Linked DNA regions of Homo sapiens: regions 2, 3, 4 and 5 are each reported to be linked to region 1. Evidence: microRNA targets listed by miRTarBase, many of them from high-throughput screens and not tested one by one. Region 1 holds a microRNA gene; each other region holds the end of a gene's coding sequence. Distances are between the middles of the regions.
The links. The annotated mature microRNA hsa-miR-5699-3p reads UCCUGUCUUUCCUUGUUGGAGC and lies in region 1 at 2,569-2,590, opposite strand. An mRNA with a match to its seed (bases 2 to 7 or 8) in the 3' UTR can be bound and repressed. Matches are read on the target gene's strand: a 7mer-m8 pairs with bases 2 to 8, a 7mer-A1 pairs with bases 2 to 7 and ends in A, and an 8mer does both.

Region 2: the mRNA of EBNA1BP2 is a reported target of hsa-miR-5699-3p. The part of its 3' UTR that is shown has no 7-base or 8-base seed match.
Region 3: the mRNA of RNF217 is a reported target of hsa-miR-5699-3p. Seed matches in the 3' UTR shown: 8mer at 1,670-1,677.
Region 4: miRTarBase lists MBD3 as a target of hsa-miR-5699-3p. Seed matches in the 3' UTR shown: 7mer-m8 at 2,733-2,739, 7mer-m8 at 2,355-2,361, 8mer at 1,878-1,885 and 7mer-m8 at 1,305-1,311.
Region 5: miRTarBase lists JAKMIP3 as a target of hsa-miR-5699-3p. Seed matches in the 3' UTR shown: 8mer at 2,935-2,942 and 7mer-A1 at 2,854-2,860.

What each region holds. Positions count from the first base shown.
Region 1 is chr10:639,131-645,447 of GRCh38, forward strand. It overlaps MIR5699 (microRNA 5699), which reads right to left and starts at 2,648; the gene lies at 2,559-2,648. The region is part of intron 1 of DIP2C (disco interacting protein 2 homolog C); the gene reads right to left. It overlaps LOC124902361, which reads right to left. Exons shown (of 1, transcript XM_047426106.1): 1 at 1-6,317. RefSeq lists an enhancer at 592-1,498.
Region 2 is chr1:43,159,435-43,165,751 of GRCh38, forward strand. EBNA1BP2 (EBNA1 binding protein 2) reads right to left here. Exons shown (of 9, transcript NM_006824.3): 8 at 5,209-5,371; 9 at 4,750-5,059. The coding sequence ends at 5,009. Among named protein-coding and RNA genes, the nearest start is that of MIR6733, 9.1 kb to the right of the region's middle.
Region 3 is chr6:125,082,422-125,088,738 of GRCh38, reverse strand. RNF217 (ring finger protein 217) reads right to left here. Exons shown (of 6, transcript NM_001286398.3): 6 at 1-5,875. The coding sequence ends at 5,802. Among named protein-coding and RNA genes, the nearest start is that of TPD52L1, 68 kb to the left of the region's middle.
Region 4 is chr19:1,572,524-1,578,840 of GRCh38, forward strand. MBD3 (methyl-CpG binding domain protein 3) reads right to left here. Exons shown (of 7, transcript NM_001281453.2): 6 at 5,812-6,015; 7 at 1,073-5,635. The coding sequence ends at 5,817. Among named protein-coding and RNA genes, the nearest start is that of MEX3D, 7.4 kb to the left of the region's middle.
Region 5 is chr10:132,166,035-132,171,588 of GRCh38, reverse strand. It overlaps JAKMIP3 (Janus kinase and microtubule interacting protein 3), which reads right to left. Exons shown (of 24, transcript NM_001323087.2): 22 at 4,534-4,606; 23 at 2,556-3,636. The coding sequence ends at 4,556. Among named protein-coding and RNA genes, the nearest start is that of JAKMIP3-AS1, 18 kb to the left of the region's middle.

The DNA.
Region 1 (6,317 bases):
CACATGGGGACGCGTCAGGTCGGGAGGGTGCTGCCCGGCTCCCGGTCCACACATGTGGACGCGTCAGGCCATCAGGGTGCTGCCCGGCTCACGGTCCACACATGGGGACGCGTCAGGTCGGGGGGTGCTGCCCGGCTCACGGTCCACACGTGGGGACGCGTCAGGTCGGGAGGGTGCTGCCCGGCTCACGGTCCACACGTGGGGATGTGTCAGGTCGGGAGGGTGCTGCCCGGCTCACGGTCCACACATGGGGATGTGTCAGGTCGGGAGAGTGCTGTCCGGCTCACGGTCCACACATGGGGACGCGTCAGGTTGGGAGGGTGCTGCCCGGCTCACGGTCCACACATGGGGATGTGTCAGGCTGTCAGGGTGCTGCCCGGCTCTCAGTATCAGCCGCATATGCACATTCTCCACTGAAGCCACTGCATGAAGCCACGCTGGAAGCACTTTCTGGCAGGTTTAGGAAGCTCACGTCCAAGGTCATTAAACGCATGGCAAGCTCGCCTTGGAGGCATTTTACTTTGCTAATGACAACGAAGCATTCTCATTGCACTGAATAGTTTAGAGCAGTCTTTCATGTCCACTGCCTCTTTGAAATAGGCATATTGTGCCTGTTTTACAGATTACATCAAGGCCCTAATATATTTAGTTCCTTGTCCCAGGTACACACAAATCAGCGACATCACTAGAACGTGTTTTGGACCACGAAAAGAAGGAAAATCACAGCATTATCCATTGATGCTGCTTAAAGCGTATTTCCAGATGTCCCTCCCCCGCCCGGCCTGTATCCAAGGCTTCCGCTGACCACGCGGCATCTGCTGGGCACTCTGCGCGCTTTCTCCCACACCCGCCACGCCTGTGGGCCTGTGCATGTCCCTCCACGCATCCCCACGCGGCTAAATCTCCCACACCCGCCACGCATGTGGGCCTGTGCATGTCCCTCCACGCATCTCCACGCGGCTAAATCTCCCATACCCGCCACGCCTGTGGGCCTGTGCCTGTCCCTCCACGCATCCGCACCTACCACGCGGCTAACACACACCTCCCACAGGTGGCAAGTGCCTGAACGTCCCCACGGCTGGCGGGGCTCCCGGTGCAGGACACACAGACAGGCACGGCCGCCCCGCCCACGGCCACCAAGGGCTTTGCTTTGTCCCCAGAGGTGCCCTTCGATGGGGTCACACGGCAGATGGCCAAGTGTTAGATAATTAAGGCTCAGGAAATCACCGCAGCCTTACCTTTAGAACTCACCTCTCCCCTGCACTTCAACCCGAAGGGTGGGTCGCCAGAGCTGGGGAAGAGATGCCCAAGGCTCCCTTGCGCCCTGACAGCCTCGGACTCTGCTCCCCTCTGTTGGTTTCTTACTGCACCTCAATAAACTTAGCTCACAGCAAGAGGCGGGCATGGCCAGAGTAGAAACACACGACAGACCCCGGGTAGACGCGACGGGGGACGAGGGTGCGTGCCGGGACGAGGGTGCGCGCGGGGAAGAAGCTGCGCGCGGGGATGAGGGTGCGCGCGGGGAAGAGGGTGCGCGCGGGGATGAGGGTGCGCGCGGGGAAGAGGCTGCGCGCGGGGAAGAGGCTGCGCGCGGGGAAGAGGGTGGGCGCCGGGAAGAGGGTGGGCGCCGGGAAGAGGGTGGGCGCCGGGAAGAGGGTGCGCAGGCTCCGAGAACCTGGGGGCAGCAAGGCCGGTCAAGGCTGGAGACTCCAACAGTGGCAGCAGCAAGGGTGTTGGCCAAGCCACAGAGACAGCCCCACCCAGAGGGGCTGCATGAACCAGCAGCGACCCTAACCCAACGTGCTCATCGGACTGGGCACACGCACACGCTGTGGACACGTGTGAATATGTTCCAATTAACGTGATGCTACGTAATAATCAACAACGTTAACCCCATGGCTTCATTACATGGCATCTGGCACATTGAGACTTTTTATTCTGTCTCTCTTCCTATACAAAGAAGTGGAAAATAGGTCCAAGATCATTCACAACAAATTATTGCTAATTGCAAAAAAAAAAAAATCCTACCCTCACCTTGGAAGATCTCAAGGCAACACCTCGTTCTTTGAGGTCATAGTGGGGACGCTCTCCGGACCCCTAGGTGAGTCTGTGACTGAGGGGAATCCCCAAATGGGCAGTTTTGGGGCCAGCACGGACGCCAGCCATGCATCCAGGCAGGTCTTGTGACCTCGGCTGGGTCACCAACCTATTCCTGCACTCAGACCCCGCCAGGAACGAGGGCACCGGCCCGCACATCTCTGCTCCCGAGGCTACATCCCCTACGTTCCTCTGCACTGCTGGGTTCCATGCCTTAGATCCCAGGCACCTTAAAGCTGATGTTCCCCCACCAGCCCTCATGAAGATGATACTCACACAACGCCCCTCCTCTCCCACCTGGTCAGTACCCAGGGAGAAAGGAACCCGGGTGTCAGCTTGATTTTCTGCCAGTACATTGAAAAAACAGCTGGCCAGCAGCACTGGTGCACAGCACTGCCAGGCTACCCATGAGGAAAGCTAAGTAAAGTCAGATGTACTCAAGTCGGCTGCGGCAAGTGCTTCTACATCCCTGCTCCAACAAGGAAAGACAGGAGGCCAGGCGTGTGTGTGGCTCACACCTCTTGTCCTTCCTTGTTGGGGCAGGGGTACAGAAGCATTTTGGGGGGCTGAGGCAGAAGAAATGCTGGAATTCGAGACCAGCCTGGGCAACATAGCAAGACCCCATCTCTACAAAAAAAAATACAAAAATGAGCCAGGTGTGGTAGCGCGCCTGTAGTCCCAGCTACTCAGGGGGCTGAGGTGGGAGGATCACCTGAGCCCAGGAGGCAGAGGTTGCAGGGAGCCAAGATTGCACCACTGCACTCCAGCCTGGGCAACAGGGCGAGACCCTGTATCAAAAAAAGGAAAGAAAGAAAGAAATACAGGAGACCACTAATAATTCCAAATAGTGCCTACTAATTTGAAATCTTTTCCAGATATGATGAAGGAAATTATTTTCCTTCCTACACCCCTTCTAAGGAAACATTTCTATTTTTCTGCTACACAATTTGGTAACCTGCCCTTTCAGATCCTGGCCTCTTTAAGCAGGACTCGCTGGTGTGCTAGCAAAGCAGTGCTCTGAAACCTCAGCATCCTCAGACCCACCTGGAGGGCAGGTGAAGGATGCTGGGCCTCCGCCTCCTAACGTCACACTGGGGTGGGGCAGGTCTGGGGTGGGGCAGGGTTTGCACTTCGAATGCATTCCAGTCTAGGGCCACATCGCCCTAAACACGCCCATCTCATCTAATGCATGCCAGAGGGAGGAGCCACACGGGGCAGGTCACAGAGCAAGTGTCCAGGCACCAGGCCACCAGGTGTCTATTTAAATGCAAACCAATCAAGCAGCTTAAGTCAAACAGCTTCACCCTCCTAACACATTGGCCAACACAACTAGTGATAAATATCACTGCTGTTAGACCTTCTGCTCACTGATGACCAGAGCAAGGGCCTGAAACATCAAAGCTGAAGGGCGTGTGCCACGGTCAGGGCTCCGCACACCCCCGTCCCAGGCCATCGCACACGGGTGCCCTCACCGGCACCGGGGTCTCACAGACCAGCTCCACTCTCACACTTACTGGGACACAACCACCCTTTCAGCCCTTCATGCGTCTGTACCCTACAGCAGTGTTCAAGGGAGGCTAATTTAAGAAAGGAATGTAATATGGACATCTGTGAACTCTTCCTCATATCCACTGAGTGGTCCTCCAGAAAGAGAAAGATTAAAAAGAAAAAGAAGATTTAAGAATCAAACACAGGGCCGGGCACGGTGGCCCACACCTGTAATCTCAGCACTTTGGGAGGCCAAGGTGGGCAGATCACTTGAGGCCAACAGTTTAAGACCAGCCAGACCAACATGGCAAAATCCCGTCTCTACTAAAAATACAAAAATCAGCCAGGCATGGTGGCACATGTCTGTAATCCCAGCTACTTGGGGGCTGAGGCAGGACAACGGCTTGAACCGGGAGGCAGAGATTGCAGTGAGTGGAGGTTGCAGTGACCCAAGATCGCGCCACTGCACTCCAGCCTGGGCAACAGAGTGAGACTCCGTCTCAAAAAAAAAAAAACAGGCCGGGCACGGTGGCTCAGGCCTGTAATCCCAGCACTTTGGGAGGCCAAGGCGGGTGGATCATGATGTCAGAGATCGAGACCATCCTGGCTAACACGGTAAAACCCCGTCTCTACTAAAAATACAAAAAAATTAGCCAGGCGTGGTGGCGGGTACCTATAGTCCCAGCTACTGGGGAGGCTGAGGCAGGAGAATGGCACGAACCCGGGAGGCGGAGCCTGCAGTGAACTGAGATCGCACCACTGCACTCCAGCCTGGGTGACAGAGTGAGACTCCATCTCAAAAAAAAACAAAAACAAAAAACAACACAGAAGCCCGTGGAACAAGCCCTTGCCCCAGTCCACGTCACCTGTGCTGTGCCACCCAGGAGCATGCCAAGCTCAAAGAGTCATCCACCTGCCTTGATGTCACTACTCGAATCACAGAGGCTGAGATTCCCTAACCCTCGTTATGTCCATGTCACTCACAAGCAGGCACTGGGCCCCCACAATGCACAGGGAATCCCTCTGGCCATCCAATGACCATCCATTGATAAATAAAAAGCATTAATTCCAGCTGGGTTGCAGAGTTGCACACATCAATACTTGTTACTGTTCACAAATGTTCCACCTGAGGGTGGAGTGAAGTTACAGAATTGGGAAGAACTTCACAGACGTATGAGGGTGTATTTAAGGAAAAAGTGTATGGAAGAGGTGAGAAAATAGAATATCCTAACCTCTGTCTTTTTATCACCCTCTAAATCCTATGATTCCAGTTCTGTTCATTCTGCAGTGAAAAATAATAAGTGATTCACACTCAGACACAAGGTGGCTTAGGAAGCTGCGGCTGTTTTAAAAAGATGAAACAATCTAGAAGGTCAGGATTCCGTGAGCGTATTCCTTACTAAAAAAGAGAAGAGACTGGGAGTTACACATCAGCTTGCCAAGGCTGTCCTGAAGTCCAGGAGCCCCTCAGGAGAACAGAGAATGTGCACCTTCTGCAGACCAAGGCAGGTGGCCGGGCCCAAGAGTGGGGATGGGGAGGCTGCAGGAGGCTTGCAGAGGGAGCTGTCCCGCCAGCCTCTGGCAGAAACTCCTGACTAATTAAACCCTGACAGCAACTCTGTTTAGTGAATTGTCTCCTGGTCACTAAGAAGAGTGAAGCTGTTGAAAGCCTACAGCCAACCCTCTGGATAATAGTTGAGACGTATTTTAGAGAAGGAAACGATCCCATCACAATCCCAGACTTGCCCACAGCTGCAGGCGCGTCCTGGGAGCGCGGCTTCTTGCTCTGTCAGCAACACGGCCCGCCGTAGAGCCACACGGGTTCTGCCTGACGCCCCCACTTCAGGGAGTCTGGGCAGGTGCAGCTGAAACAACGTCCGGGGGCAACCCCCACCCCCACTTCTCAAAAGTACACACAGAGGCAGACAGAATGAAACACGGCCCCCAAATCTCAGACGTAGGGTTCAGCAACACGGCCCACCATAGAGCCACATGGGCTCTGCCCAATGCCCCCACTTCAGGGAGCCTGGGCAGGTCCAGCTGAAACAGCATCTAGGGGGCAACCCTGCCCCTACTTCTCAAAAGTACATGCAGAGGCAGACAGAATGAAACACGGCCCCTGGGCCTCAGACATACAATTTAGCACCAGCATCTGTGAAACAAGAACAAAAGTCGCATGGGAAAGTGAGCATAAAAATGAAAAAATAACCGAATTACAGTGAAGATGGATGAGATGGGGAGGACTGTGAGGAAGGTGAGAAAGGGACTGAGGACCTGAAGAGGCACCTAAAAGCTGGATGTTCCCGACAAGACAAGAAAGACCCCTCCGGATGAGGTGGGACATCATCTTCATCATGGAAATAAAGGGGAAAAGCCTGAAAACATCAGTTTCCTACCATGAAGCAAAAATCAAACTGGCCTCAGACTTCTCCTCTACAACACTGGATTCCAAAAGATGAGGACATGGCATCCGTGGGGTCTTGAGGGAGAGCTGGCATGAACGTTCCAGAGCTGAGTCTCCAGAAGCAGCCAAAACAGCCTCAGATCCAGCAGAGTCTTGTCTTGAAAAGTCTATCAGAGTACACCCCCTTATCAAAGTGGCACACGGCTGCAGGGGGTGTGGTGTAAGGTGATTTAGAAATCCTTCTCCATGCAGACCCTAAACTTGGGAGGCCACTGGTCACACCCTGGCCACACACCTCAGCCAGCAGGAAGCCCTGTGCCTCCTCTCT
Region 2 (6,317 bases), not on the chromosome of region 1:
TGCTTCTGCAGCTCTGCTCCTGCAAAGAGAGCAACCACATTTTCTGCTTTCATCTCCTTCCCAACTCTGCCCGAAAAACAGAAAGCTCTTACTTTGTATACTCATCTAAAAAAGCATATAAAGTCAGTCTTCACTTTGCACAATAGTGCAGGACTACAAAGATGTCCTGCTTGCTGAAACTATGCAAAGTGATCTTAATCATCATTGGGGGAAAATTACAATTGTTCTGTGACCTTTAAAAAAAATTGTCCAAAAGTCCTTGAGGTGGGCAGATCACGAGGTCATGAGATCGAGACCATCCTGGCTAACACGGTGAAACCCCGTCTCTACTAAAAATACAAAAAATTAGCCGGGGGCAGTGGCGGGCACCTGTGGTCCCAGCTACTCGGGAGGCTGAGGCAGGAGAACAGCACGAACCCGGGAGGCGGAGCTTGCAGTGAGCCGAGATCGCTCATTGCACTCCAGCCTGGGCGGCAGAGCGAGACTCCGCCTCAAAAAAAAAAAAAAAAAAAAAAAAAAAGTACCAATCTGGCCGGGCGCGGTGGCTCACGCCTGTAATCCCAACACTTTGGGAGGCCAAGGCGGGCGGATCACAAGGTAGGGAGATCGAAACCATCCTGGCTAACATGGTGAAACCCCGTCACTACTAAAAATACAAAAAATTAGCCAGGCGTGGTGGCGGGTGCCTGTAGTCCCAGCTACTCGGGAGGCTGAGGCAGGAGAATGGTGAAAACCCAGGAGGCGGGGCTTGCAGTGAACCAAGATGGCACCACTGCACTCCAGTCTGGGCAACGGAGCAAGACTCTGTCTCAAAAAAAAAAAAAAAAAAAAAAAAAAGTATGAATCTTTAAGTCTTCGAAACAAAACTAAACAATGAAAAAAAAATTTGTGTGAAAGTATTAAAAACTCTGTTCAATGCGTAACAAAATTAAAATACTAAAATTTAGTAGACTCACTTTAAAACAGTAGAAATATTGAGAATCAAGTGTTTTATTTCTGTATGAAAAACCATGCTTGTCTTCTTTTTTCCCTTCTATAACTTACGATGAAGAACAAGCATTTTTTCCGTGCCTTGGCAAATTGTCTTTACTCCTTTCTAAGTTTGGATTTAGTTTCAACATTTTATCACTTGATCTTCCAATGTCATTAGATAGCTCCAAGAGTCCCTTTAATGTACAGTTTTTTACTAGTGTCACTCTCTGGAGACATCTTCATCCTTTCCATCTCTTTCCTCATTTGTAAGTTTGCCTTCACAAGGTTTCTCTGGCTGTATATCTAGTCTCTAGAAGGGCAACAGCATTCACAGTCCAATATCAGCTATTTCATCTACAATTCCATTTGCATTGCACTCAAATTTTACTTCCAGCCTCACCATTTAAAAAATATTTTTTTTTTCTTTTGAGACAGGTTCTCACTCTATCACCCAGGCTGGTGTACAGTGGCACAAACATAGCTCACTGCAGCCTCAAACTCCCAGGCTCAAGAGATTCTCCCACCTCAGCCTCCTCAGTAGCTGGGACAAGTGCATACCACCAATACCTGGCCAATCTAAAAAAAATTTTACTCTATTTTTTTTTGAGATGGAGTCTTGCTCTGTCGCCCAGGCTGGAGTGCAGTGGCGCGATCTCGGCTCACTGCAAGCTCCGCCTCCTGGGTTCATGCCATTCTCCTGCCTCAGCCTCCCGAGTAGCTGGGACTACAGGCGCCCGCCACCACACCTGGCTAATTTTTTGTATTTTTAGTAGAGACAGGGTTTCACCGTGTTAGCCGGGATGGTCTCGATCTCCTGACCTCGTGATCCGCCCACCTCGGCCTCCCAAAGTGCTGGGATTACAGGCGTGAGTCACCGTGCCCTATCACTTTTTGTTTCTTTGGTGTACATTAATCCTTGGTGGTCAATTCCCTCTCAGGTATCTACTTCTATAAAATGCATGAGGAGTTTATTGCTAAAGACAAAGAGGCAACACAACTACACACTTTGCTGTGTGTGTGTGTGAAATGAATAACTGATGCAGTGACTGATCTTGGGACAGACTTTGAAAGAAGTGATGGTCACTAGTCTTCGTGCATCTGTCATTTATGAAGTGATTTGTGGACTAAAGAGCTAGCAGCGACTGTTTCTACTTTACGCATCTACTCAGTTATTACTTTGGTAACTGAAATGTGAACATTGTTGAGAAACTTATTTAATTACATCATGATAACTGAATTCATGCATATTAGAATCTGTATTGGGGACTCCTAGGTTCCTACTTATTTTTCAATTGATGGGATTGTATTTATTTTAAAGCAATATGAAGGAGGCTGAGTGCAGTGGCTCATACCTGTAGTCCCAGCACTTTGTGAGGCCAAGGCAGGATTGCTTAAGCCCAGAAGTTTGAGACCAGCCTAGGCAATAGAGCAAGACCCTGTCCCTACAATAAATAAATAAATAAATAAATAAATAAATAAATAAATAAATAAAAACACCTAGCCAGGCATAGTGGCATGCACTTGTAGTCCCAGCTACTTGGGAGGCTGAGGCAGGAGGATTGCTTGAGCCAAGGAGTTTGAGGATACAGTGAGCTATGATCACATCACTGTAATCCAGCATGGGCAATAGAGTGAGACCCTGTCTATACAAAAAGAAAAAGAAGGCATAATGCTACCTGCACCTTGATCACCCTTTATTTTGAGGGTTGGAATGATAGAAGTGATGTAAATGAGTTCTACAGAGGATATTTCTAAAACTAAGGAAAGTGAGTCCATATGTAAATCTTTGCTCTGTAATAAAAAAGAGAAAAAAACAAGAAGTAAAAGAGGGGGGACATAGTTTTCAAGAAAGCCTTTAGAGGTATGTTGTTATTAAAAACTTACTTTTGGCTTTATCAATGTGAAATGTTGTTAACCTGTGCTTTCTTTTGTGAAACTCTCAATATTTACTTGCATAATTCAAAGTCTCAAACTGCTTCTGAGCCTGTTACACATTATCCCCATTCAATAATATGGCATGAATTATGAAAGAGGACAGAGTAAATATTTTTGTCTTCTTGATATGACCTGTGTGACCAGTTTTGTTAGTTGAAATTAGTTTACAAAAACTAAATTCTCTTTGTTCTACATTACAATCTTAGTATTATATGAATCCAGAAATATCCTTTTCATGTGCCAATAATGCTACAAGAAAATGTGAAAATAAATTATTCTTTCTGCTAAAGATACTATATAGCTCTCAGGCATTTCTAACTTCTTTAAAAATAAAGTATGATTTCTAAACTGGAATGGAGAGAGAAGGGGCAGGTAAAATGGTTTACCACCCTATCAACACAGAGTAAAGCCCAACAATTAATGTGGCCTGCCTACTCAATGTACCACCTACGCAGAGCTTCCGCTTATGTATGAACAACCAAGGCTTGCCAGATATTAAGGAAAGAAACCCCAGCAAAACAATCCTAATCAAAGGAATATGAGAGGATTATCAGATTATCGGATTATATTAGGATAATGTTCTAAGTGTTTTACATTGATTAACCGAATACTGACAGGAACCCAATGAGGTAGATACATCTACATTATGCTAGAGATGACAAGGCAAATAAAAATTAAATTCCCTACGGTCAAACAGCAAGTAAGCAACACAGCCAGGCCCCAGAATCCACGCTTCTTAGCTTCTACAATACTCTACTGCTCAAACACGGGAAAGAGGAGATCAAAATGCATGGGCTGCAGAAACAGAATGAAGGGAACAGAGGGAAACTTTATCAAAAAAATTAAAACTATAATCATATTCTGAGAGATATAAGATACTGCATCTAGAGGATAAGAGTAAAATGATATGAAAAATGACCAAATAGAGAATAAGAAACTCTTGGGGGATAAATGAAATGAAAGCTAAACTTCATATTCAATAAAATGATTTTAGGCCGGGCATGGTGGCTCACGCCTGTAATCCCAGCACTTTGGGAGGAAGAGGCAGGTGGATCACTTGATGTCAGGAGTTTGAGACCAGCCTGGCCAACGTGGTGAAACCCTGTCTCTACTAAAAATACAAAAATTAGCTGGGTGTGGTGGCGCACGCCTGTAATCCCAGCTACTCAGGAGGCTTAGGCAGAATCACTTGAACCTGGGAAGTGGAGGTTGCAGTGAGCCAAGATTGTATCACTGCACTCCAGCCTGGGCGATGGAGTGAGACTGTGTCTCAAAAAAAAAAAAAAAAAAAAAAAAAGATTTTAAAAAACAAAAATATATCTCCCCCCAAAAGTAGAACTGAAATAAAACTTAAAAACAGTGCCTGCGAAATTCTAAAATTCTAAGGAGGAAATTCCTATCAGCCCAAATTAAAGGCAATTTCAGAAATGCAAGGAGATAAAAAGTTTACCTCTCATCTTCCCTTTCTTAGTAAGATACCAAAAAATGGTACACAGCAAAAGAAGGCATATGCTAAGATGGGAAAACATGGGATTCTGGAAATAATGGTGCCAACTTAAACGGTCTAGAAAAAAGGTGACAGTTGTGTGGCATAACTAGGTTGTAGGAGAAAAATTATAAAGTGGGTAAAATGACAAAGCATCTGGAAAGAACTAAGAATATAGAAGGAAAATTAGGCAAGCAGAAGAATGTAAGGTGAAGGTTAACTGGAGGAAAAACCAAAAGCTGTACCACAAAGAAAATCACGGTGGCTCACACCTGTAAAATATGGGCATTGAGCTTTACAGGGATTGATCGTAATATAACTATTTAGAAGGATGAGACAAAGGAAATGAGAAGGTGTCAGTTAAATCATTATTTATCATAAAATGAAGGCAATTTGAACTCAATGTCTAAATTATCAATAGATAGCAATGGAAAGTAACTTCTCAATCTTTTAGTCTAGACTATTTAACCAAAGGTATGTGTTCCTTTAATAATTTTTCTTTAGTTTATTGAAAGAAATGTTTACAACATGACACCAACAGAAGGGATCAAAGTGTGTCGTGAAATTGCGAGTCTTCATTCCTTTTTCTTGGTTCTTTGTATTCAAAGATGCTATTTAGTGTGTTCTGTTCTTCATCTTCTCTCTTGTTCGTTTTCCAGGTCTCTTCTACAGAAAAAGACATACCACATCTGGTCACATAGCAGCTTGCCTTCTGCCCCAGGGTGAGGACGAACAGAACTGAAGGGAGAGGGCAGGGTTGGGAGTGGGAGGGGAGGCTGAGCCTGCTCCTCACCCGGGCACCTGGGCTCACTTACATTTGACCCTTTCTTGCCAGGCCTCTTGAGGCCTCTGCCATGAGCTGTCTTGGCCCGGAAGCTAGATACATCATCATAGCTCTCCCGAGTGTTCCACTTTGAGCCTTTCTTCTTTCCACCAAAACCAAACTTCTGGTTTTTATACCGTCGTTTAGCACTGGGCCTGGAAAAGAATGGTCCTAGACATCACTACAGCACTGTAAAGCCTGATGAACCTGATGGCCCAGCAATGCTCTCAGTTTCCTTTCTATAAGCAAAGCCCCTTAGGCACGTCTGTAACCCAGAATCTCATCCTTGGCCCCACAATCCTATGCTACAGCCTCTCTAGACAAACTCATCTAGCTCACCTATTTACAGTTTTGACCACCAGGGCAGGAAAATAAAGCAAGAAGCAGGGAAGGCTCTACATATATTACATGGCTTCCTGCTGTCTTTAGAAAGCTTTCTATTTTAACCAAATCTTATTAAATCACCCTCAGTTGTGTCTATTCCTCTCAAGGGTAAATACATGCAGTTAACATCCAAATGTAATATGTTACATTTGTAACATTCAAATGTAATGTAATGAATACGTTCAAATGTAAACATTCAAATGTAATTATAGGCATTCAAATAACATTCAAATGGAATAACATTCAAATGTAAAACTGGTCATCCAATAGGAATCTTGAATTCAGCATCTCCAAATTCACATCATCTCCTGGACTGGCTCTGCTTCCTGTACATATGCCCTCACTTGAGGCTGGCGCTGCTCCCACCAACCCAGACACACAGGCTAAACATGTGGGAGTCAGCCTTGGTTCTTCTCTCACTCTTTATACCCAATTCAATTACTGAGTCCTGCTCATTTCACCTCTTAAATGTTTCTTCAATCCTTATCTCGACTTTTGCAATAGTACCCTTGTCAATTTCCCAGCTTCCCTCAAGTCTGTCACTTATACAAAATCCACTGTGATCTTTTTAAAAACATGAATATAACCTGCTCATTACTGTTAGTACAACCTACAACCTAGTCTCTCCACTGCCTTCTGACAAAGCCCAAGCTCCTCAACAAGGCAAACCCACAGCCCAGGTCCCCCCAAACACATTGCACCCCTCCTTGCTTTGCA
Region 3 (6,317 bases), not on the chromosome of region 1:
ATTTTTAGAAGAAAAAAGGAAGTGACAAAAAAGGGCAATGGCAATGTTTTGTGTATTTAAAAAAAATTATTGCCTTTTACATTCATACTGTTATTCTAAAATAGTCACTTCTCTAGCCAAAAAGATATATATAGTTTGTAACATGCATAATTACATTCTTTTAAAACTGGCAATATGTATAGGGATTTTGTAAGGTATGTGATATGGTAAAGCTTCAGCTAATGCTCCAAAGAAGCAATGAGAATAGTCTCACTACTGTGACTCTGTTTCTTGGATTTGGATGAAGTCAACCAAAGTTACAGCCTTACAATTAGTAACAATAGAAGTCCCACACAAAGTTTGGCTATGAAATGTGTATTTGTTCTATTTTCAAAATCAGAGTTTCAAAGGAGTCCCACTGTAATTCTTTCTTAAAGATTTGTATCATTGGTTTGCATCCAAAAGGTAACATTTCACAATCTTAAAATACTCCCCAAATTTTGGAACTCTGATTTTGTTCTGATAATACTTTAATGCTTCTATAAAATTATTTGTTTTATCAAATTAATAATTGTGGCTATAAAAATTAACAATGTGATTTTGAAGACAGGCATAGTAGGCACGTGCTTGTAATCCCAGCTACTCCAGAGGCAGAGGAGGGAGGATCGCTTGAGCCCAAGAGTTTGAGACCAGCCTGGGCAACATTGAGAGAACCTCTGTCTCAAAAAAAAAAAAAAAAAAAAAAGAATTTTGTAACTTATTTTCCATATTAGGGGGACAGTATCATAATTAAATTATAACTTTAAATACAAAATATGCTTAAACTTGGGATTGGTGTGCAAAACTGGTAGTTTTGATTGATCATATTTTTAGTGAGGGAGATTTCTTTTATAGAATTCATGAATTATGAAATTGCAGTTAAAACTTTCAGTATAAATTAATTTAATATTTTAAACAAACATTCCAATTAGGTATATTAGGTAACACTTATTAAGTATTATTTGCTAGGTTTGATAACCATTCCAAGATTACTACAATTTCAGAAATTGCTACTTTTCTTCAGGTATGTTTTATTTGTTTTAAATCTTTAGCTTCTGATTCCTCCCAAATTTAAAGAGATGACACATATTTGCTAACACTGTTATCCTACTGTCTCCACTGAAATATATGTATCAGTTGCTTTAACTTTGTATACTGTCTCCATTGAAATGTATGCATTGATTGCTTTGTCATTATTTAAATGGCACAAATATTTTAAAGTGCATTACAAAATTTTAAGGCTATATTTATAATAGATATTAACACAAAACAATAAAGCAGACCATGGGAAAGATCACTCTCAATAGTTGGGAGAGATTTCAGCCACAAATATGGGAGAATAAAAATATAATCCAATGTGAAGACTCACATTAAGGCTTATGTGCAGGTTGCTTATAAAATTAAAATCTAAAAACGTTTTTTGGCATACATTTTCTTATTTTTGTAGTAAAGTATGCCAATTAAGGTTATAGAGGCCACTAACTTTTTTGTAATTCTAATGTAACAGCCAGTATAAAAGTGTAATGTTAAAAACAATTTCATTTAACAAGGGAGAAGCTGGACTGATGTCTTGGCAGATGTGCCCTCATTTGACAAAGGTCAGGAAGGAATTCTAATGTTTCCCACATACCAGAGTGAGTTTTTAGGCCCCTCCTGTCTCTCCTCTTCTCCTTCAGTGAAGAGGAATAGTTAGAATAGCAGAGGTATGGAGAAAAATGAGGTTGAAGAGGGGCATCAGGGACTGGAAATGATTACAGTGGTTCATAGGTATTTTAGGAGAACAGTTGGTCATATACTTGGGTGGTAAGGTTGAAAGATAAAGGCTCAATTGGAGCCTTGGGACTCAAGAGATAGTCAGAGTCACAGAACAAGGTATTTTCTGACAAGCACCACTGAATCTTGATACCACAGCAGAGAAAGTACAATTAAAGATATCATGTTGTAACCTGACTTGTGTTTAATTATCTTTGTTTTCTTGTCTGTTCTACTCTTAGGACACAATAGCACCTATGAGAAAATCAAGGTGGTGGCAACAAGATGTTGCTTGTACCAAAAGGTTTGACCCCTCTCTTCTTACTCCACATATATAAATTATTCCACGATTTATAATTATCCCACCAAATCACTAAATCGTACATAATCTAATGTATTTTTCTGGGAATTGCTGTGGGCATTTATAATTGCCAACATATTCTTTCCTACTTTTCACAATGGCATAATTAAGTTCCTCTGTCAAGCAACATACACAAAAGTGGATAGTGTTACTAAAAATGCGAAAAGTATCACCAATTTGGCTTGGGTATTTGATTTAAATCCCTCAAGTTTTAAAATGAGGCAATCCAAAAGTCAATTCATCTCTCTCACATTATCTGACACACATCTCCTCAAATTTTATTTTTATTGAAAAAAAATTTCCTATTGTAAGTTTTGGCAAGGTATTTATTTGGCTAATCAGGCAGAAAGGAAATTACCCTTCAAAAGACGATTTTCTTTAAAAATTATGCACTCCTGTACAATCTTTCTTTTTATCCAAAAAAGGGTCTCATATTATCTCTATGACCTCATCTCCTGAAATTACATTAAAATGTTTATTACAAAGATCTTGTAAAAAACAAATGTACAACCTTATGGATATGTTCATGCAAGGTGACAAAAATATATGCAAAAGGGTCTTCACTCTTGCTTTCTTTGTAATAGAGAAGTGAAAATAATCTTGTAGTCCATTCAACAGGGGACTAATTCAATAAGTTAAAGTATACTCCTACAATGGATTATGCAGTAATTTATAAAAGAATGAGGTAAATCTATTTAAACGCTTATGGAAAGGTATCTATTAATATATAATAAAATGACAAAGAGTCACAGCACAGTAAGAATATTTTTCTATTTGTATAAAATGAATACACACACAGACACATACACAAACACACTTATTTGTATATTTGTAGAAAGTGTCTGGAAGGACACATACCAAACCATTAACAGTGGTTACCCCTAGAAAATAAGAGGTGGGGTAAGTAGAGAAAGTTGTATTTTATAAATTCTGTATAGTTCAATTTTTTAAAGTAGTATATATTAAATTTACAATAAAAGCATATAAAATGACAAGCCTTGGATAGAAAGATATTTATTTTATGTGCACGCTTCTTTTTAAAGTAGTTTTTAGAATTTCTCCCAAAAGTTACTACTACTGTTTTACCTTCAAAGTTGGCACTGACATATAAATAATACTTTTTATTTTCTTCTCTCTTTTTAAGATCTTGATGAAACTTAGTAAAAAATTCACAAATAATCATTTTAAGTTACCAGCAGGGAAAGGCCTAATAGATATGACCCTTTAAAGAGAAAAATGTGTATGTTAATTTAAAAATATCTACTCAATAGAAAAATGAAAAACCTGTGCAACACAGTGCACACTATTTCAAGCACTGATGAAATAGCCATCACTGAAAACAGACACCACTTTGTAACAGGAATATTGGAAAGTTTTCCAAATAATATAAAAATATGTCCAAAAGATAAGTTATTTAAAGAAATAAAAATCCCTGAGTAGGCCAAAGACAACAGATACATAACCCAGAAAACAGATTATCCAAGACAAAAGAGTATGTTATTCAGCCCGTTGGTATATATGTATATGGCATATGTGTTCATATGCAGTTATGGGAATATTTCATATATATCATACATATGACATATATACATCATACATATACAGATCAGCTAGGTTTAGAGTTCATCATATTCACATATTGCCAAACTAATGCCTAAGTTCAGGAAAGATGAATTTACGAAACCTTACTCTTATGACAGGTTAGAAATTCTCCTTCTTTCAGTCTTAAATACTATTACACCTAAGATAGGCACTCAATAAATATCTGTTAAATGGATGGATGGGTGAATGAAAAGATAAATTTGTGAAAACAGAGCATCACTATTTCTTGTATTATATTATGCTTTAGAAATATGCTATTCCCAAACCATAAATGTCACACACTCCTCTAACTGGAAATAGACAACTAATCCAGAAGCTGTAGCACAGTTATTCTGTGTTATTCAGAAAGAATGAAAGCATGCTGGATTGTTATTCACGCAAGTCAACTTCACTTTTTATGTCAAACAAAAAATAAAATATTCTTACACTCTGGAGCCCAACAAAAATAAACTACTCATGTTAATGCATGTTTTATCATATCATCTATTTCAAATCAGACAAGGTTGCTGACAAATAAATGTACATCTAAGACAGATGACTAATTTTAAGAATTTGGAGACAATTTAAAGCTTTAGGCTTTTTAGGGGTCTTTTTTTTTCCTGTTTGCTGATGAACTTTTGTGATGAAAGCAAAGGCATATCATAGTCTAGTTACTTGTCAATTTCTTATTTTTAAAGCTTTTGTAGGTTGAGAAAAACTTCCTGAAAATATTTCCTTCACTTTTTTGTTTCCTTTCCCAAAAGCAGCTGATATTGGACAAACTCAAGAACATAAAAAGTTTTCAAACTCCTCCATAAGAAGGTGTCCCCAAAAATATTATGTTTGAGCAGTTAAATGTAAGAAAAAATCCTTCAAAACTAGTATTTGTTTTTATGAAAAACCTTGAAAACAAATAAAAACAGAGAGGAGGAGGCAAGAGATAACAAGGTTAGGATATTAAATGATGTAAGACCTTGACCTAAAGCAGAATTATCTATAATTACAAGTTGGTTAAAAAATTAGCAGAATAGGAATTTTTTAAAGGCTTAAGCAGTTGTCTACAGCAAACTTGTTTTTGGGATTAAATAATCCCAATGTGAAGGATCTATCTATAGAGTGAAGCATGTTTTCCAAAATGTAAGAATTTTAAAAAGACTGAATATTTGTGTCTTGAGAATTTCCTAAAAGCAGCCAGTTTTGTCAGTTTACAAAGCTTAATACTCCTTGGGGTGACGTTGCACAAATTTCTGTGTTTGTGTGACAAAAAGAAAGAGCAAGAAATAGAAAAGTTCAGTATCGAAATGGCCTGTTGTCTACATTGACTTTAATTTAATACATTGCTAAATTATGTCCACAAAGGAGCCATCATCTTTCAATAGGTCTATGAAAATGTGGAAAAATAGTGTAGCGGCATGGAACTGGGTAAGTACAAGGTTACTGGGCCTAGTTTTAATACATATTTATATACACACACATTCACGCCCCTACGCATATACACTTCAGTAACTTAATATTCTTCTCATTAATTTAGTTTCACTCATTCCCTTTTGGACATTGAGATTTTTTGCAATTATAACATTTGAAAGATAAAAGAATTATACTGCTGGGGCCACAGATTATAATAGGTGCATTCAGTGAACTCTTATCTTCTGAAAAGTGGCCTTGCTTGTTGGTACAGATAGGACTTCAGCTATTAACACCAAGTCTCACAAGATGGCCTGGAAGGAGGTGCAGAGTTCAAAGACAGTCCAAGCAATTCTCAGAAGAGGCGTGCTCAGAATTCTTAGGATAACTGGTTCTTAAAATATCTTCTTCCAAGAACCACAAAGGTCAGAGTTATGATATAGATGTTTATAGTTTATGAAAGTGACCATTTTTTAAAAGCAGCAGCAATTTGTTTAGGGAAAGGACAGGATACCATGTTGGGAGTGCACCATAGCTAGAGGCATTGTGGCCCACGGAGAATCACTGGGAGATGAGATGGTAGAAGGTTCCTCTCAGTGTTTTTCAAGATGTGACTCACAGATGGGTGTACCCTTTGGTATCGCTCCTACTCCAACCAGCTTAGCTGGATGAAATCATCTGCATGTTACCAGTGCATACCTGTCCGTGATCGTTTTCTCTGTTTTTTACAAAGGCAATAGATAGGAAATACAAATAAACCTAGGGATAAGAAAAAATTAAAGTTAGTTAGGATGAGAGGCATTTAGGTTTTCCTATTTTAAAATGTCTATGTTTATTTATTTGCAGTGTACGAACATACAAAGAAGAAGACATCTATGCTATGAAATGTATTTACTTCTTCAATATTTCATTCTTTAATATTTCCCTTTAGCTTTTCTCCCCTTTAGCACCCTCAGTGATACCAGTTTAATAATAATGATTTCTATCCAAATATCAAAACTTTGGTTTAAATCTTCTTTATTGTCCACAGTCATATCATTTGCACACTATGATACTCACACTTGTTTCAGGCAGTATAGCATATCACTTAACAACACAGGCTGTGGAGCCAAATGTTGGGTTTGATTCCTGGTTCTACCACTTATGAGGTTCCAGTAAGTCTTAATTTCCTCAACTGTATAATACAGATAATAATATCTAT
Region 4 (6,317 bases), not on the chromosome of region 1:
CTCAGGTTCAAGAGATGCTCCTGCCTCAGCCTCCTGAGTAGCTGGGATTACAGGTGCCCACCACGCCTGGCTAATGTTGTATTTTTAGTAGAGAAGGGGTTTCTCCGTGTTGGTCAGGCTAGTCTCAAACTCCCGACCCCAGGTGATCCTCCTGCCTAGGCCTCCCAAAGTGTTGGGATTACAGGCGTTAGCCACCGTGTCTGGCCTATTTATTATTATTATTTTTTTGAAGACAGAATCCCTTCACTCTGTCGCCCAGGCTGGAGTGCAGCGGCGTGATCTCAGCTCACTGCAACCTCTTCCTCCCTGGCTCAAGGGATTCTCCTGCCTCAGCCTCACGACTAGCTGGGACTACAGGCACCTACCACCATGCCCAGCTAATTTTCGTGCTTTCTAGTACGTGTTGGCCACACTGGTCTCAAACTCCTGACCTCAAGTGATCTGTCTGCCTAGGCCCTGCAAAGTGCTAAGATTACAGGCGTGTCCCACCTTGCCCAGCCTGTACAAAAAATTTAAAAATTAGCCGGGTCTGATGGCACACACCTATGGTCCCAGCTACTTGGGAGTCTAAAGTGGGAGGATTGCTTGAGCCCGGGAGGCAGAGGTTGCAGTGAGCTGAGATTACGCCACTGCACTCCAGCCTAGGTGACAGAGTGAAATCCTGCTTCAAAACAAAGAAAAAAAAAAAAAAGGCCAGGTGCAGTGGCTCACGCTTGTAATCCCAGCACTTTGAGGGGCCAAGGTGGGGGCAGATCAGTGGATCACCTGAGGTCAGGAGTTCGAGACTAGCCTGGCCAACATGGCAAAACCCCGTCTCTACTAAAAATACAAAAAATTAGCCGGGCGTGGTGGCACATGCCTGTAATCCCAGCTACTTGGGAGGCTGAGACAGAATTGCCTGAACTGGGGAGGCAGAGATTGCAGTGAGCCAAGATCGCACCATTGCATTCCAGCCTGGCGACAAGAGGGAAACCCCATCTCAAAAAACAAAACAAAACAAAACAAAACTCAGAAAGGAAAAGGAAAATGCACAGGGAGAATCCTGTGATGGAGAAGGAAGGCAGGCAGGACAGCAGAGACAGGAGCATTTTATTGCTTGTAAATTACATCTCAAAAAACCCACTTCACACACGTTAACTGGAAATATCTTCAAATGAACGGCCGTGAGCGTGGTTATTTTGGTAACCAGAGAAGGCTAAAAATTAAAACTGTGAAAATTAAAACTGAGCAGGGAAGGCAGTTTTGTGGTCTCATATTATTTGCCCTCAACAAAATTCTTTTGCCCGTGGCCAACATGGTGAAACCCTGTCTCTACTAAAAGTACAAAGATTAGCTGGGTGTGGTGGCGGGCGCCCGTAATCTCAGCTACTCAGCAGGCTGAGGCTGGAGAATCTATTGAACCCGGGAGGAGGAGGTTGCGGTGAGCCAAGTTTGCACCATTGCACTCCAGCCTGGGCAACAAGAGCGAAACTCCATGCCGAAGAAGAAGAAGAAAAAAAAGTACACAATTCTGGTGAGGCACGGTGGCTCATGCCTGTAATCCCAGCACTTTGGGAGGCCGAGGTGGGGGATCACTTGAGGTCAGGAGTTCGTGACCAGCCTGGCTAACATGGTGAAACCCCGTCTCTACTGGGGGTGGTGGCATATGCCTGTAATCTCAGCTACTTGGGAGGCTGAGGAGGGAGAATGGCGTGAACCCAGGAGGCAGAGCTTGCAGTGAGCAGAGATCACACCATTGCACTCCAGCCTGGGTGACAAGAGTGAGACTCCATCTCAAAAAAAAAACTGTGGAACATTATCATTAACTTTTGTGGGTGCCCTTTAGCCATTTCCCCCAGTCCCCATAATCCCCAGTCACTGGCACCCACGTGTCCCCTTCCTGTCTCTGAATCGGCCTGTCCTGGACATTCACACAAATGGGATTGCACGCCGTGTCGGTGTCTGTGTGTCTCTTGCTGAGGGTGGACTCCTCCAGGGGCATCTGCGCCGTGGCCGGTGTCAGAGCCTGGTTCCTGTTCATGGCCGAGTCCTGCTCCATGGTGTGGCCGGGCCGGGCTGTGTTCGTTCATCCCTGGATGGGCACTTGACTTGTTTACACTTTTTGGACCCCTTGAATCTGGAGCGAGTGTGACAGAATCTCACAGGCAGTGCCCAGCCACCCGCTACCAGAAAGCTGAGTCTTGCTCCGGTATGGCCCTGTCCGAAAGAACGTTCCGGAAGCTGGGGGTGTTTTCCATGGGCACCTCCGGGCTCCTGGAGATTTGCTGTGACAGCCATGAGGGACACACACAGGCGAGGGGCATCCCCGGGGATCTTTGCGGTGGCGAGTGTGTGCGGTGGTCAGAAGGGCTGTCCCTGTCTGCCTGGGTCTGGGGGCTGCAGGGACAGCAAGGCACGGGCCCTGGGTGTGGCAGGAGAGGCATGATGCCCCTTAGCTGGTGTTGCTGAGACTCGGGAGCCCTGTGGTCCGTGTGGCTGGGCCGAGGGCTGGGAGGTGCATCCTCGCCACGGGGGTCCTGAGCCTCTCCTCCCTGGTACCCTCTGTGGCGGCAGCGGTGGGGAGCTTGGTCTGAGGGGAGGCGGGGGACACGTGAGGCTCTTGCTGCTGCTGGCAAGTGCCAGAAGGGCTGCCATGGTGGTTCACACCTGTAATCCCGGCAATTTGGGAAGCTGGGGCGGGCGGATCACCTGAGGTTAGGAGTTCCAGACCAGACTGGCCAACATGGTGAAACCCTGTCTCTATTAAAAATACAAAAATTAGCTGGGCGTGGTGGCTACTCGGGAGGCTGAGGCTTGAACCCAGAAGGTGGAGGTTGCAGTGAGCCCAGATCACGCCACTGCACTCCAGCCTGTGCAACAAGAGCGAAAGAAGAGCGAAACTCTTGTCTAAAAAAAAAAAAAGTCCCAGAAGGTCTTGGGGCTGAGACATGGGCGGGGCTGGGGGCAGCCAAGTGGCCTTTGAGGATGGGGCCAGGCACCGCACAGGGCAGGCTGGTCATGAGGCCCCCACGAAAGATCCCAGCATTGGGAGCTCAGGCTTCCCCGCCCCATGCCAGGTCTGGGTTCTGGGGCTGGAGTGTGGAGCCTCGGTGCGCCCAGGGGGTTCAGCCTGAGGGTCTGAGACTTTTCCAGGGCAGGGAATTTGACGAGGGCCTGAGCACTGGGCTGGCCCCTCAGGTGCCCACGCCTACAACTCACTTCTCACCGGGCACGACCTCTAGCAAAGGCCAGTATTGCCTTGGCCTGTGGGGGTCCCCAAGGTTTCAGGGAGAGAGGAAAGGACCCTCAAGCTTCGTCAACAGCGACAGCCCAGGGCCTGGATGGGCTTCCAGTGGGGAGGGCCCTGTGGCAGGGGTAGGGATCATCACATCTCAGACCAAGGCCAGGACATGGCCAGAACCCCGGGATCAGAGGGACTGATCGGGGTCTGTCAGTGACAGGAAGCTGGGCTGCGACAGAGAGGGAGAGACAGCAAGAGACAGAGACAGAGACCGAGGGAGAGAGACAGGAGAGAGAGCAAGAAACAAAGAGGGACAGAGAGGGAGACGGCGCAAGAGAGAGACAAGAGGGAGAGATAGAGACAGGGATAGACAGAGACAGAGAGAGACCAAGGGAGACAGGGACACAGTGGGAGATGGGAAGAGGGAAACAGAGTGTCTCTGAGTGCCGGGCAGATGAGGGGAGGGTGGCCTCCCAGCCTTCAGGTCCAGAAAGCAGCTTCCAGTGGCCATGGCTAGTGAGCTGAAGTCCAGGGTCCCGGGGCACAGCTCCCCTCCCTGCAGCGGCTGTGCAGGACCTGAGGACCTGGGGGGCCCTCCCTGCCAGGCAGCCCCTCCTGCTTCCCTTCCTTTGGAAGGAGCGGTGCTGGGTCTGAGCCCCAGCCCATCTTCCTCACCGGGGCAGCAGGGCCAAGACCCACGATCCCTAGGCTGAGCCAGCGGCACCTCAGGGGGCACGGCCCTTGCCCACAGATGCCCAGGCCGGCCTGGTCTTCTCTGAATACCCCTAAGCCTGACTCTTGGGTTGTGAATGTCCGCGAGGTTGGGGGACCTGCTGGCCCTGTCCCCACACCGCTTTCAGCCTTTCATCACCCAACCAAAGACAGAAGCTCAAACGTGGGCACCAAAGTCTAGCGGACGCACCGAACTCCAGGCTCCAAGCACATCCACCCATGGTGGCTTTATTCAGTCACGTCCCCACGCCCACGGCTCCCTCCACCAGGCAGACAGAGGGGAGGCCACCCCACTGCAAAGGGTCCCAGCCAGTGGGCACCAACCTCAGGAAGACGTGGTCCCCACCTGGAGCTTCCCTCGGCTGCCCTGGCCCTTGAGCCCGTCCTGAGGATTTGTGCTTTGACTCTGACAGGGAGCAGCAGGAAGCTGCCAGCCCACTGCCTCCATGCGGGTCCTTGGAGGGCAGACGGTGGAGCGGCGCTTCCTCAGCTCCCGCGGTCAGGCCCCATCAGGGATGGTCACAGTCCAGCCACAGGGGCGACTCTGCCCATCAGTCCCCCTGGGGCAGCGACCAGATCCTGGCTGGGGCAGCACCGGGACAGGCCCTCTCTATGGGCCTAAGGTCAATGCAGGTGGGGGCTCGCTGGGCCCAGGCCAATGAACCCACCCGTAGGAGCCCTCACTGGGCAGCAGGGCCAGGAGGGCACCAGGGACTGGCCGCAGAGTCCACTCGGGGCAGGCGTCTGTGGCTTGGAACCTGCCCTCGCCAAGGCACTGGGGGGTTAAGGAGCAGATCCCTCAGACGGCCTTGGGCCAGAAGCTCCCTGGAGAGCTGGGCACCTCGAGGAGCGTCTGGGAGCCTCACCCTGTCCCAGTGGCTCCTGGCACCCCTGGGAGCGTCAGCACCACCCCAAAGCTGGGTGCCTGTGTCGCCACTAAACAGAAGGGAAACCGAGGCAGGGGGGCCGGCTGGCAGTGGAGCATTCTGGCAGCGCCGGGCGACCAAGTCCCGACTGGCAGCGGCTGGAGTTTGGTTTTCAGAAGCGAAGGCTGGCGTTGGCACACAGGGAAGGCTGCCCGATGACGTGCCTCGACTGTGTTACATTTACTGAAGGAGAGCGGCCTCCTGGGCATGCCACTCAGGCACGGTGAGGCTCTGTGGCACCACCAGCCGCATGGCAGGGCAGAGAGTGGCGCCGTCCTGCATGCCCCCCACAGCAGACCAGAGTCCCGTCCTCACGCTGCACAGTGGGTGATGTGAGTTTCAAAACTACGCCTCCAGACCGAGAAACCCTCCCAGCTGTCAGCAAGCCGTGGCGCCGAGCTGCCGGGCACCTGCTGGCTGCTCTCCAGTCTCAAGGAGCTGGGACAGCGGGCATGGGGAGGAGCTGGCCTCGAGCCCAAAGGTCGTAGGGAGCCAGGCAGGGCCCAGGAGCACCCGGCACTTCCCGAAGCCGGACTCTGTAGAGGACGAGCGTGGAGGGTCTTTCGGGTGGGGGCAGCCCCAGCTGTGTGCCCCGAGGCCCCGGGAAGTGGGGACGGGCCGAGGAGGGAGCCAGGAGCACGGCCTTCCTCCTGGGTGTCTCCAAGGCTGGGCTTCGCCGCCGAGCCTGGTTCACGTGGGGCCGAGGACCGCGTCTGCAGGCGGCTCCAGCAGGCAGCACGGGCTCTCGGCAGGGCCTCTGGAAAGGACAGGGAGGGCTGGCTTTAGCGACTCCACGGGACGGGGACGCTTGGGCTCTTCTAGGGAGATGGGAAGCTCTTGGGAGGCACCCGTCATCCCAAGCACATCTGTGTTCACCAGGCAGTCCCCACTGCCAGGACCCGACTCCAGGGAGCCCCCGTGGCCCCGCAGCACCTGCCCTAGACGTGCTCCATCTCCGGGTCCGGGTCGGGCTCCTCCTCCTCCTCCTCCTCGTCTTCCTCGTCGTCGTCCTCAGCGCAGGCCTTGTCCAGCGGCGCCTCCCCGTCACGGGCCAGCTCCTCCACGTGCGCCAGCATGTCGGCCATCAGCGCCTCCTCCAGCCGCTTCCGCACCTGCTGCACCAGCTCTTCCTGCTTCCTGGGGACACATGGACCTTGCGTTACACCAAGGTGAGCGGCCAGCAGGACATGGACACAGGATGAACGTGGGGACCTCAGCTGGGAGGGGAGGCCCGAGGGATCCACAGGCACCCCCCCAGGACCAGCCCTGGCCCGTGCCACCCCTCCCTTCACAATCCACGCAGAGAATGACCGGCTGCCGCTGGCCATCGCCAGCGTCCGCCACCCTCCCAGATGGCCCCCCTGCCACCTCTACTGGGACCAAGGGAGGGGCCTGACCCTTCAGTCCCCAGACTTGGCCCTGAGCCTCCCCGGGGCTCA
Region 5 (5,554 bases), 130 Mb from region 1:
ACAATTTGTGCAACTTTAAGTCTAAAATTATTTCAAAATAAACAGTTGGGGAAAAAAGCTAATTGGAGAGAAGGGAGATGCTCACTGGGACAGCACAGTAACGTCTCGCGTCTCATTTACTGGGCAAAAATACACTCGGACGGACATTGTCGCAATTCCTCTACCACAGAGCAGGGCGCACAGTGCACCTGCCGGGCTGTGGGTGAGGGGCCCTCTGCTTCCCATGGGTGTGGGGTTGGTGGTCCAGGGCTGGGAGTGGGGACTAGGGCACAAAAGCCCCTTGCTGGCTGCAAGTTTAGGTAGTAGCTCTTTCCTGACACCCTTCAAACTCACGCTGGAGACTGCACACTCGGAGCAGACGCGGTGGGAGAGGATCCCGAGAGGATGACAGCCGCCTCGCTTCAGAGGAGCCCTGTGAGCTGGCGGCCTCGGCCCAAAGTCCCCGCTCCGTAACCTCCCCCAAGGGAGCCTGCAAAGGCATCGCTCTCCTCTCCTCACTTGACTGAACATGCTCAAGAAGGCATTGCTTCTGGTGCTCCAGCGGGGACAGGTTTCTGCTCACAGGTTTCCCCACCCCTGGGTTAGCTGCAGGGTTGGGTGACAGCCCTCCACGAGCATCTGGGGCTGACAGCTCTGCCTGGTGCAACGTGACGCTTGGGGCCAATTGACTCACACGTTTTCCTTTCTGATCTAGCATTCGAGGCTCACTCCCTGATCCCGGGAGGCTGACGGGACTGGCTGAGAAGTCTTCTGTGCGGAGCTGTACAGACGCCTTGTCCACAATGAGCCTGTGGCTTGTCAGCCCCCGAGCGGAGCGGCGCCCACCCACCTCTGTCCCCGCCATGCCGACAGGCCTGAGACACAGTCTGCACGTTGGCGGCCGGCTGCCCCTCCCTGATGACGGTGTGGCCTGTCTACCCTGACCGCCCCCATGGACACACGCTGGGAGCAGGAGAAGCTCCGAGTCACCTCCAGGTCCAGTACCCAGGAAATGGCTCCATCCAGGGATGCCGTCCATGGATGTCCAAGTCCCAGATGTCACCGAGGGCAGCTGTGGGGGGCCTTGCTCCCCAGGCCCCCATCTCCTGACCCGGCGTCCCCTCTGTGACCTGTTGTGGGAACCTGCTCGGGGCTTAGCATGGCCTGGATGGTCCACCTGCCCCTGCTGTGAGGCCTGGCCCGCAGGGGGTGGGAGTGAGGCAGCCGGGAAGCCTCCGCGGGGAGGTTCGTATGGCGGGGAGGTGCGTATGTCCACGCCGTGTGTGTTGTTGTGCTGTGGGGCGTTCCCTGTCCCCAGCCGCCCTCGGGGGACCCTGGAGGCTGTGGAGCTCCCGACCTCTGGCTGCGCTGTCCTTGCCGCACAGTTAGAGATGTTATGCTTGGAGCTCCAGCTCTTGCTGTGGGACCAGAAGTCTCTGGGGACTCGGCAGCCATGTCCTGAGGGATGGTGGGCCTGCGGCGCCCTCGTGTGCCAAGCAGCGGGCGTCCTTGGACAGGGCTGGGACTGCTGGTCTCCCGCTCCTTCTAGAATGAACCTCTGCAGCGAACCTTCTGGCCTGAGGCTGTGCCTGGGCGCCCTTGGTGGATGCAGGAGCCAGATGCTGCTGGGTACCCAGGTCCCGACCCCGCGAGGACGCCGCCTCGTCCACCACGCACCTGAAGAACGCGCCCCAGGGGACCTGCAAGACGGAGCCGCCGCCCCCTTCGCACCTCCTCCTCGCTGCGGACCCCTCCTGAGTCAAGGGTGAAGATGGAGCTGCCGCCCTCTCCTGAGTCCAGGGTGGTGGTCGCACCTCCTCCTCCCCCTCCCATTTTCTACGCAGGGAGCATCTCCCGGGAACAACAGTGCCCGTGGCCCACAGCCGCTGCCCACTGCAGGAGACACAGGTGGCTCTCAGACACGGTGTGGGTCGGAGGTGGGGGAGATGGAGCGCTCCCTGGGCGGCCCCCCATGGGGCTGCCACTGCCTCCCCAAGAACCGGCTCACCCTGCCCCAGGGCCCCGCTGAGTCCCACAGACACAACGGATCCACAAACCCTCCCATAGGGAACCCCGCTGGCGAGGAAAGCTCCACGGTGGAGCATGCCCAGAGTCCTGACCTCCCTCCCTCCCTGCTGGGAGCACCCAGAGTCGCCTCCCCAGAGCGGACACCTCAGGTGCCGGGGCCGAGTGTGGGGCGGCGTCCACGTTCAAGTGCACGGGAGCAGCGGAGGGAGGCGCACTCGGAGAGCGGCCTCATTGCACCTACGGGGTTTCTCCCTTTTCCCGCAAGCCTCCTCCTGCAAGTGGGAGGAGGACCAGCTCTGCCAGACGCCAGGTCCCCGTGGAGCACCATGTCTGCAGACCCTGCCCCAGCGACAGCTCACGCCACGCTCCACACCAGCCCCCAGGCCCTGTCCCGTCAGTGGCGGGAGAGGTGATCTTGACGGGTCAGCAGTGGACGGGGTGGCAGCGTCACGCATGTGCAGACGGGGACACAGAGGTGTGAAGAAGCTGGAGCTCACCTCGCAGGGAGGGTGCAAAGGCCCTCCCCGCGGACAGATGGCAGCCCTTACCTGTCAGCCTCTTGGTCCACGGCTCGTGCAGCGTCCCCACACAGGGCGGGAGGGGAAAGGCCGTCCCCGCGGTTCCCTTCTTGCGCCCGCCATCCCCACCTGGGCTGCTCCTTGTGTGCAAAGGCTTGGGGTGAGGCTTCGGTGCCCGCCGGGGTCCATGGCCTGCAGGGCTGGCCCGTGCAGGGGCTTCCAGGCTGGGTGGCTCTGGGTGCCCAGGGCCTCTGTGACTTCTGGAGATTCACTATGGAGGCAGCCTCTGGCATCCGTGTTCCAGCCAGCTCCGCCCCCTCGTCCCACCTCCTGTCACCACGCTCCCCACGCCTTCCTTGGCTCAGTCCCGCGGTGCTCCCAGCTGGCGGCTTGGGCGGGATCTTGGCCTTCCTGTCTCAGGTTGAGTAGGGAGGCAGAGGGTTGATGGCACCACGCGGCCCGCGGCGGCCACGGCTCTTGTCTGTCCCCACAGAGATGATGATGAACGAGGGTGGATGTGGGGTCTGTTGGCCAGCGGGTGCTCAGGACCCCAGCAACATATTGCAGCATCGGAGGGGCCCCTGAGGCGTCGGGGAGCCCTCCCAGGACCATCCCAGGGAGCCTCCAGGTTCCCCTGAATGAAGGTCACCGTCCAGCTTTCATCTTGTCATCAGGCCAAGCCTCTGTTGTTTCTGAAAATCTTCCTCCAGACACCAGTGGCAGCTACTGTGAGAACCAAGAGAGAGGAGGGGACCCGCGGCTGGTGCTTCTGCACAGAAGCAGTTCTCACCCCTGCTTGGCAGGGAATGCTACACATCCCTGGAAATGGGATGGGGGCTGCCGTCCGGGAGAAGGGACCCAGGGTCCAGCAGCCAAGGCCAGGCCCGTCCCGGAGAAGCCCCCGAGAAGTCGGCAGAGCCAGTTCTAGTTCTGGCACATCCCACGTGGACGGCAGCTCCACGCCCCACACACTGCCCCTTCTCACTCTTCCTCCACGGGACGGGCGTGCAGAGACCAAATCTCCCTGGGTCTTCAGGATGGAGACGCGACGTCCCATTTTGTCCCTGCTTTCTGGTCCCACTGGAGGAAAAGGGTCCGATTCAATGTGGGGCTGGAAGAAATGAAACGTAGAGTGCAGAGTCAGCGAGGCTCCGCTTGGCTGGAGTGAGGGGCGAGGGCCGAGGGGCGAGGGGCGAGGGCCGAGGGGTGAGGGGCGAGGGGCGAGGGCCGAGGGGTGAGGGCCGAGGGGTGAGGGGTGAGGACCGAAGGGCTGCGTGGAGAGGATGTCAGGGAGACTCCACTTGGCTGGAGTGAGGGGTAAGGGGTGAGGGATGAGGGGCTTCATGGAGAGGGAGAGCCCTGCTCCCAGGGGAAGCTCCTCTCGGGACCTGCTGAAGGGTGCAGACTCGAGGACCGAGGCGAACAATGATGTGACGTCCTACTTGCCCCTCCTCCAGTTTGGAAGGAGGCAGCCATCTATGCTGGCGGGTGCCATGGTAGCAGCAGCCATGACCTGTAGACTCCAGCTATCCTGGCCTAAGCTGCCCGGCCTGGCAGGGAGACCAAGCCCTCCTGGCTGAATCTCCAGCACCGCCCGAGCTTGTGCTCAGCACCACCCAGAAAAGAACAAGGACGAATCACAGAACCACCGTGTCTGCCCCCAGGGCCTGCTGCCGAGTGCCACCAAAGCAGAAAGACCCCCTAGAGAGGGTCCTGCATGTTTCTGCTACACTGGGGTGGTGGTGGGAACCCTGCTCTCCTTCCCGTTCAGGAAAGGTGAGCACCTTGCGGCCTCTACAGTGGAAGACTCCGGGTCCTGACCCCCAGGGAGGGACTTCCAGTGTTGAAGGACGCGGGTGGCTTTCTAACAACCCTTTTGGGGATGCTGGGTCATCGCCTTCCAGTTGATCGAATGGCAGGTGGGCAACTCCCTGGCAGGGCAGGGGCAGAGGAGTCTTCCGGGAAGCAGAGCGGGACCCCTGCTGGGCCCTGCCAACGAAATACTCACCACGTCAGGGTGCCAAGACGGACTATGACCAGAGAATGAAAGCTAAGGAGAAAAATAAGAACAAAAATAGAAACTGAAACGGAAAGGGGAGGATGGAGAAACGGAAGGAAAGAAAGAGAAAAAAGAGTTTGTAGTGCTTCTGGCAAGAAATACACGCGATTACAGACTGAAGACAGAGCTGTTGGCAGGGAGGAGAGGACGCTATTAAGGACTGTGCCGAGGGAGGGATGCTGCCCAAATCCCCGGGTCTGAGGGGTGGTGCCGCCACCCCTAGGAACGCACTGGGGACTCTGCACCGGGCAGATGCGGGTGGTGGGCGCTGGTCAGGGGCCCCACACCCAGCGTGTCCCCAGCACCACAAGGCCAGCCTCCCGGGGACTGGGTCTCCTCCTCCCTGAAGTGAAACCCATCGCTGAGACCTGCTGCAGGAATTTTTGGCAAGAGCACCAATGGGGTAATAATAATGGTGAACGTTGTATTGAAAGACATTCCAAGTGCCCAGCAAACAAAAGCAGGCCTGTGAGAATATTGTGGTCTCAGTCCCACCGTAAGCAGCAAAGTACAACCAGCACCCTGAGCAGACAAAGCGCACACAGTCTCACTCTGGGCTGGGGGTCGGGAGCCAGGCCCATCTGGACACGAGAGAAAATCGGGCAGTGGGGCATCGCTTGGGAATGAAGAGCTATTTAGCTAGATTTAAGAAATAACACCTGATCTATTTTTTTCTTTGGAGACAGGATCTCAGTCGGTCACCCAGTCTGGAGTGCAGTGACGTAATCATGGCTCACTGCAGCCTCAACCTCCCAGGCTCAGGTGATCCTCCCACCTCGGCCCCCTGAGTAACGGAGATTATAGGCACGTGCCACCATGTCCAGCTATGTTTTAAAATTTTTTTCTAGAGACAGGGTCTCACTATGTTGCCCAGGCTGGTCTTGAAATCCTGGGCTCAAGCGATCCTCCCATCTAGGCCTCCTAAAGTACTGGAATTACAGGCATGAGCCACCACGCCTAGCCCTCACAT